Linked DNA regions of Homo sapiens: regions 1 and 2 are each linked to region 3. The links come from fine-mapping of genetic effects on gene expression. A gene starts in region 3. Each other region holds a variant in brackets. All regions are shown on one strand. Distances are between the middles of the regions. Region 1 overlaps POPDC1 (popeye domain cAMP effector 1). Region 2 overlaps POPDC1 (popeye domain cAMP effector 1). Region 3 holds the start of POPDC1 (popeye domain cAMP effector 1).

Region 1 (2,756 bases), 38 kb before region 3:
TTCAGGCTAAGTGGCTCTTTTAAGATTCCTAATCTTGAGGTTACAATCTTCACATTGAGACACTGATACACACACATACTTTAATAAAAACAGCAAATGGTCTTATATCACCTACTTTTAGCAGTGTGCTTTTAAAACAGGTTTGTTCCCAGCATTACAGAAAATAATCTCCAAACACATGCATTACTTTCTACTCAGGGAAGGATGTTACATCTAATGACTGTATAGAGTGATTTTGTAAATTAGTCTTATGCGCGTGTAAACTAAATGGGCTGCCCAACTTAACCCCAATGGTTAAAGGAAAGTAGTCTCGGCACTATGACATCACAGTTACACCTGTGCTCTCAGGTACAGGGCGAAAGTGAGAGCGAGAGCGCACGAGAGAGTTCAACCTGAGAGAGCTTTATAATTTCAAGCCTAGGCTGTCATTCACCTTTGCTTCATTTCTCCAAAACAAGCTCCTAATTTAGCTACCTGAAGAGACTGCTGCAGCAGTACAGTGAAAGCAGCCTTTTTTTGAAATAGGGTCTCACTCTGTTGCCCAGGCTGGAGTGCAGTGGTGTGATCTGTGCTCACTGCAACCTCAACCTCCCAGGTTCAAGTGAACCTCCCACCTCAGCCTTCTGAGTAGCTGGGACTACAGGTATGTACCACCACACCCAGCTAATTTTTTTTGTAGAGATGGGGTTTAGCCATGTTGCCCAGGCTGGTCTTGAACTCCTGGGCTTAAGCAATCCACCCACCTTGGCCCCCCAAAGTGCTGTGATTACATGTGTGAGCCACTGTGTCCAGTCGACAGTAGCCTTTTTACTGTGATGTCAATAAACCAACATCTGAAGATGACAGGAACTGGATTCAGAGTCTGTGTAAATTTTCTCAATGAGTGACCGAGCATGTAAATTTAACTCAAATGAAATTACTACAATAATTGCTTTAAAAACATATTTAGGAAAATGAGGTGACCCTAGATGAGCTTATTTATATGTCTCCTCTAACAGAAATCACCTCATGGTAAGAGTTGCTTCTTTTGGCTCAGTTCACCTGAGAACAACTTCATTTGGAACTTTTCTTAGCCATTTAACGTAACAGGAGACTGACTCAAAGTTGGTTCTAGTGGATGAAGCAAAATAGACATGACCAGCATGGCCAATCAATGAGCTTCATTCAACGGAGCGTCCTGGCCAAGTGCCACAGCCACGCTGGCCAGACACACTGACCAGTTACGCATTTCCCACCAGCCAAATGCCACTGTTTACTAAACCATGATTTCAGTAGGAAAAAGAGCTCTGGAATCAAGGCCCTCACTGCAGTACCTGGGTGGGGTGTCCATGGCCTGGCCTGTAGTAAACCCTCTGCCTTCCACTGTGTTCACGTTCGCAGCTCTGGCACTGGGGCATCTGGCACTTTTTTAAAAGAGATGTCTCTGCCTCTAGATGAACAATCTGGAACTTCAGAATACAGATCAAAGAATGAAGCAGATCTTTCAGTGGCCTCATCCTGTGG[C/T]ACCTGCCCAGCCATTTAACTCCCCTGTCCTCCCACCCTACATAAAGTGTTTCCCACACCAGAGTGTGCACAACATGGTGACTCCAAATCCCAAGGAAGTTGAGTTTAGCTGGAGGTTAACCCCGTGCTCAGAAACCCATCTGTTATCTTTCCAGCTTCAGGTTTCAGAGCAGTTTATAAATGGCATAATACAAGGGTAATGTGAGTAAAATCTGAGAGTTTTGTTCATTATCAAGTTATCCACACAGTGCCCAATTAAGTAAGGTGATCTAGTGGAGTAATACTTCTGGCCTGGGAGAAAAATAAAACCAGTCAAATCACACCTTTCTCTAAAATGTCCCATTAAAAAAATATGGAATAGGCCGGGCGCGGTGGCTCACGCCTGTAATCCCAGCACTCTGGGAGGCCAAGGTGGGCGGATCACGAGGTCAGGAGATCGAGACCATCCTGGCTAACACAGTGAAACCCCATCTCTACTAAAAATACAAAAAAATTAGCTGGGCGCGGTGGCAGGTGCCTGTAGTCCCAGCTACTCGGGAGGCTGAGGCAGGAGAGTGGCGTGAATCCAGGAGGTGGAGTTTGCAGTGAGCTGAGAATGTGCCACTACACTCCAGCCTGGGCGACAGAGTGAAACTCCATCTCAAAAAAAAAAAAAATTATATGTATGTGTGTATGTATATATATGTATATATATATATATATGTATGTATGTATGTGTGTGTGTGTGTGTGTGTGTGTGTGTGTATATATGGAATAAAGTTTGAGATTCCCTGCTTTTTCATGTTACCTTAGCCTCAATTTTAAACTTACATTGTTTGTTAAAATTATCAAATGGACAACCTCATTGCTATGGAACAAAAAAGACTGTGAGGAAAAAGAATCATAACTTGGAAAAAAATAAGTGAAAAGGCATTGAGAGATTGCTAAGATTTGTTAAGTTAAAACAATAATATATCTAGAAAAGACTGTGAAAATATATATCTCAAAAGAGAACAAGGCATAGTCAGAAGGCTCAGTAAAACAATTACTTTAAAAGCTGACTAATAAAAAGGGTAAGTGAAAGAACTCTTCCATCCTTGACCCTTCCTCACTTCCTCCCTCCGACTCCACCAGTCTGGATGCACTAAAGCAGAATAACCTAAAAGCCATGAAAAAGTGCTGGTATTTTTCAGGATCTCTTCAAGACACCTTCCGTCTTGGTAACCTGAATTCTCTCTCTGATCAAGGCAGCTGATGGACTTTCAATGTATTTG
Region 2 (2,763 bases), 21 kb before region 3:
GGCATACAAAGTTACAAATCATTTACATAAAGAATTGTTGAATGTGTTTGCATTTTTTAAAAGTTAATTTGGTTTAAAATACAATTGGAAATATGAATAGTTTTTAATTCATGCAATGGAAGAATGTCTGCCTTTTTGCTATTTCATATGAATTTGTTCAAAGTTTTTATACCATCATTCTTAGAATAATTCTTAAAGTATTTAATTCTTAATTTAGTTTTTCTCATTTTACTTACTAATTTTCAACATCTGGGTTATTTGTGTTACTTAAAATGTTTTGAAACAATCTAAACTATGGAAGAATACCGGAAAATGTGCCTCTTGGCAGGCGTGTGAATGAGGTAGCTCACAAGGGTGTTGAGTGATCTCCTTCATCTTTGGGAATAATCCATTTCTCAGTCACTTTTTAACTCACGGCACTCATACTGAGATAACCAGCCAGCAGCAGAACACCCAGCATTTATTTGTCTACCATTTAGTAAAACATTTCTGGGTCTAGGCTTTCACTCTAACTAAAGTCATGAAAGTAACAAAGCCAAATGGCAACAAAAACAAACAAAACCAAAGCAAAAAAATCAAACCATGTGGACTCTTAGAGTATTCTGGTGAGCCACTATTTTTTATTTTTGAGACGGAGTCTCGCTCTGTCGCCCAGGCTGGAGTGCAGTGGCGTGATCTCAACTCACTGCAAGCTCCGCCTCCCAGGTTCACGCCATTCTCCTGCCTCAGCCTCCCGAGTAGCCAGGACTACAGGCGCCTGCCACCAAGCCCGGCTAATTTTTTTTGTATTTTTAGTAGAGACGGGGTTTCACCGTATTAGTCAGGATGGTCTTGATCTCCTGACCTCGTGATCCGCCCGCCTCAGCCTCCCAAAGTGCTGATCTGCCCGCCTCAGCCTCCCAAAGTGCTGGGATTACAGGCGTAAGCCACCATGCCCAGCCAGTGAGCCACTATTTAAGCAAAGTATATGGCAAAACCAGTGAACAATTTCAATTTCTGAAACAGAAATAATAGTTCTAAAGTTGGCTTTTAGCTCATATGCAATATGGGGGAAATGCTAAACAAAATTTGATTGTTTTTATTGTTACCTTTAGGTTGCCTTTCAAATAGTTACCTGCAAAGTTATTTTTCTAATCAAAGTTGTCATTTGTCTATGTCCAGAGATACCCATCAGAACTCTGGAGTAGTATCAGTTTTGGGATAACTTACGAAGAGAGGACATGCTGGAGGTACCCCGAAGAAACTGGTGCAAGCCGTCGTCACTGTCACTGGAGCTGGCTATACTGTTCCTCATTTCCAACATGGAGATCTGTGTGCAGAGGCTGAGCTGATGTTCCAGCTTTTTGGCTTTCTACAAAGCAAAGTTTTAAGCTTTCTGAGAATTATGGGAGTTGAATCATACATTCCATTTAAGCAGCATGTACTTTTCCTAGAAATACGTTAGTGCATTTAAAAAAAAGAATACCTGATACATATTAGGTGGCCAATAAACATAAGCTATGATTTTTATTATTAGCTATTACTATAAATATATTATA[C/A]AAAATCAAATATACTTAGTAGCCTATTTATAATAAGCTAAATAATTAACTGAAATAAGCACCAGCTTAATTTGATAAACAGTCCAGATAAGATGATTTTGAAAGGGCACATATACTCAATTGTCACTGGGTAACAGTACTTATCACAGAAACGACGTTTTTAAAAATTCTCTCTTGTAATCATTTTAATTTCTTTCTAAAAAGATACGGGAAAATTAAGATCAAATTGCAAATTGCTGAAGATCTATGCAGCTCTACACCTCTCCTTTCACTTTCTCGCCTGACCTGAAGATATGCAAGACTGGAAGACAGCAGGGTTCAAAGGCCAACTTCCTGATCGCTGGGGTCTGTCAGCCTTTCTCTGTCTGCAAACCTCCAGCTGCCCTGTCCTCCCTAACTTACTCCATCCTCCACCCCCTCTTACTCCTTTACCATCTTCCTTAAAATGCTCTTGATGAAGAGGGTGCCTTATCACCATAAATGCTAGTCCCTGACAATTGTAGACTCCTTACTAAGTAACAGCAAATCTAATCATTACAAAATACTTTCTCCTCTCAAGATTACAAGTATCCCCAGTACATTTAACATATGGCTAGTTACTAAAAATTCAGGAAAACATATTTCATAAAGTGAAATATACCTCATATACATATTTATTTAACAAAATAAACTCAGAGAACACTTACTTTATCATTTAAGGTGGGATCATTCAATGAGTAGAGCTTATTTGTGATGTCTTTTCCAATAAGATACCTAAAGATTTCATACAAGAAAGGTTCTGATTCCAGAAAGTATGTTAATCTTTCTCTTGACCAGCATAAAAATCTGCAGTTATCATCTGCAATAATGGTGACCTGCCAAAGAAACAAGCATGCAAAGAATAAAGTACATCTATGTATATGAATTATGACTATAGTGATTTAGAAAACTAGGAATGATTTAGTGGACATTATCATAGCAATGATTTGTCAAATTATAAAAAAAAGGAGACTCAATGCACACAAGCTTCTACACGTATAAAATTATGTTTTTTAAAAAAGCAATCTGCAGACTAAATAAAAGCAAATTCTCTGTGTTTCCTTGTTGTTTTGTTTTGTGAGGTCTGGTGACAGAAGAATGGCCACTGTATTGATACCGCTGCTGGAGCATGTATTCAACTGAGGATGCCACTGGACATATGACTTACATGAAATATTTCTTTACACCCTGTACATTACAATGAAGT
Region 3 (2,763 bases):
TTAATTTTGACTAAATCAAGAGAAATTATTTTTCCCTCATCAGATCATCAAAGTTGAAGTCCTTAAATTACCTATACTAGTAAAGTTTTGTTTATCGTTTTTCAAATAGGTGATTGTAGGGCTAAATAGCTAAATGCTGAAACTAACATTAAACCTCTACCAAACTAAAAAAATGAAAAAGATAACTGCAAACGAGCGTCTTGCTAGTCGAGTTAATTCATTCTGTAATTCTAACTGAATCTTCGCACATCTCCCGAATGGCAAATGGCATTACATTGCTAAGAGTCTTTTCGCACTTATTCATGCTTCAAAGCAGGCAGTTTCTGGGACTTGTCTGGCCAACAACCCGTTCCCAAAGGCTCGGGGAAGGAGGTTGCGGGTGGGTGGCGCGGACCTCGGGTCCCCAGCCATCGGCGCTCTCCCGGGGCCCTCTGACCTCGCTCCTTAAAGGAGGAGGGTCCGTGGCAACGGTCCTCCTCGGCCAGGCGCTCTCGGGACGCGGGGGTGAGGAGTGAGCGCCGTGGCCCACCCTACTCTCCGAGCGGGGACGGAGTGGGCGACACCGCGCGCCCGGCTGCACGCAGGCTCTGCGCGGCTCGAGGCGGCCCTACAGGGGGCGAGGAGGAACCCCGGAGACTCGGCGGAGAGAGCAGAGACGGAGCTCACCAAGGGGCTTGCCGCCGCAGAGCGCGGGAGCCGGCACTCGGTGGGGCCGAGGGCCCGGGGACGCTGGGGCTGCCTGACCTGAGCGGCGGCCGCTGACCGTTGAGGGTCTCTGTGGCCGCAGCGCCCAGACCCGGGGAGAAGGGCGGCCTCCAAGGGCCGGGAGCCCCTCGAGGGCGCGGCCAGCGAGGAGGGACAGAGGGCGGCGCCCCCGGCTGCCCGGGCGCGTAGAACAAGCAGCTGCCGCCAGGGCCGACAAAGTTGCTCCCCGAGGGGCTGAGATCCAACTTTCGCTTCCCGATTTAGCCAGGGGAGCGCGAGGCCGCACACAACCCGGCGCGGGGGGAAAGCCGGCTGCAGCTGCGCCTCCCATCCTTACCCGGCTGGTCCCTGGCGGGGAGCCTGGGCAGCGCCGACCAAAGTTCGGAGCGGCAGCTTCGGGGCGCGGGACGCGGGGCACACGGGCTCAGCTGCTCGACGGGAGCCCGACGCGCGCTCCTCGGCGGGTCGGCGGGTCCGGAAGCTCCGCTGCCCGGGCCGGGTCCCCAAGCCCGCAGCCGCTTTGACTAAAATAGGCATCGCGACGGCGGCGGCAGGCGGCGGCAGCCAGGGCTGGGGCCGCACCGCGCACGCGCATGCGCCCGCCGCCCCGCGCCCCCCGGCGGGCGGAGCCCGGCGCCGCGGCCAGGATTTCCCACCTCGCTCCCGCGACTCCGCTGCGGGTCTGCACACCCGAGGACTCGGTTTGAAACGCCCGCTTATTTATTTTCTTGTCGCCTCGCTACAAGATTCTATCCTTGTTTGGGCATGAGTGGGGGGCGGCAGTCTCGTGGGACCGGCGGCATTCGTCGTTCCTCCTTACGGGGATAATTCGAGAAGTGCGGTCCGGGTAGGGAGAGAAATCAGGAGAGAAAATGAGAAAGAGAATCCTCGTTTCCCCTCAAAGTTGGACGACCCACTCGTATATCTCCTTTTTGGGAGATTCGCCCATAACTCAGCACAAACAGGGAATAGCCCGGAAAGCGCGCGAGTTCCCGTCCGATTGTGGCGGGGGAGGCTGAACGTTTGGTCCACACGGGTGCAGGACGCGGGGGTCAGGCCTCCTGCTGCGGAGGAAGAGGGGGAAGAGGCCGCGCGGGAGGGACTTCTGACACGCGCCACTGTTTTTGTTTTCAAACAGGGGTACTTAACCGAAACTAGCAATCCCAGGCGGTACAAGGCCCTCCATCGTAGGCAAAGCACTACCTGAATGTAGATTTGGGCCATACGTTGGAAAATAAGACATGAGAGTATGCTCCGATCAACTTTTACTGTTCACTGGACAACTATTTTGGGTAAGAAAAGCAAGGAAACTTAATAAAGAATTGGCGTTGTTGGGAGTTGTCTTGTAGGACAATAGAGGAAGGTTAGATGGGTACCCAGTTTCCACCAAAAGTGTCCCATTATTGGTTAAAATTGGCATCAGTTATTAGATTATGAGATCGTTCATGCATGTGAAATGTGATCTCAATATAAAAAATACCACCACCGATTGTGTGAAGGTACATTATAAAGAGTACCTGGAGGTGCACACTGGACAAGTCTCTGGTTGAAGAGATGGTGCAGCCTAGTAAGAAAGAGCATGGGCCTTGATGTCACACAAGCCGGGTTTGAATACTCCCTCTCCTACCAGTTTACTGTGTGACCTTGGAGAAGTTACCTAGCCCTTCTGTGCCTCAGTTTCCTTTTTGGAACATGGGGATAATGATGATGATGATGATGATGATGATGATAATTATGATAATTGTACCTGCACTTCATAGTATAGTTTTGAGGACTAAATGGTGTAATTATATATAAGGGTCTTAAAATGGTGTTTGGGACATAAGTTCTATGTATATATATTGTATTTATAAAACTCCTTTTCTAATACGTCTGAACTTTCCTATAACCATAAAAGATTACTTTTTGAGATTACTTCTTTAGAGTCTGTTTCTTTCTAGATGCTCTGCCAGCCTTTTTTTTTTGAGGCAGAGTTTCACTCTTGTTGCCCAAGCTGGAGTGCAATGGCGCGATCTGGGCGCACTGCAACCTCCGCCCCCCGGGTTCAAGCGATTCTTC

What was found. PIP is the estimated chance that this variant, and not a neighbour inherited with it, causes the effect. A credible set is the group of variants that fine-mapping cannot tell apart.
Region 1: its variant is the best candidate, but not a certain one, in a credible set for the expression of POPDC1 in esophagus muscle (GTEx, PIP 0.78).
Region 2: its variant is the best candidate, but not a certain one, in a credible set for the expression of POPDC1 in tibial artery (GTEx, PIP 0.65).

Annotation. Positions count from the first base shown.
Region 1 is chr6:105,098,365-105,101,120 of GRCh38, forward strand. It overlaps POPDC1 (popeye domain cAMP effector 1), which reads right to left. Exons shown (of 8, transcript NM_001199563.2): 8 at 1-2,756. The coding sequence ends at 2,725. Among named protein-coding and RNA genes, the nearest start is that of POPDC1, 37 kb to the right of the region's middle. The variant C/T (reference allele first, on the strand shown) is at 1,504.
Region 2 is chr6:105,114,477-105,117,239 of GRCh38, forward strand. It overlaps POPDC1 (popeye domain cAMP effector 1), which reads right to left. Exons shown (of 8, transcript NM_001199563.2): 6 at 2,225-2,392; 7 at 1,210-1,351. Among named protein-coding and RNA genes, the nearest start is that of POPDC1, 21 kb to the right of the region's middle. The variant C/A (reference allele first, on the strand shown) is at 1,539.
Region 3 is chr6:105,135,927-105,138,689 of GRCh38, forward strand. It overlaps POPDC1 (popeye domain cAMP effector 1), which reads right to left and starts at 1,231. Exons shown (of 8, transcript NM_001199563.2): 1 at 1,043-1,231. It overlaps POPDC1-AS1 (POPDC1 antisense RNA 1), which reads left to right and starts at 1,761. Exons shown (of 4, transcript NR_037157.1): 1 at 1,761-1,997. RefSeq lists silencers at 1,030-1,149, 1,160-1,269.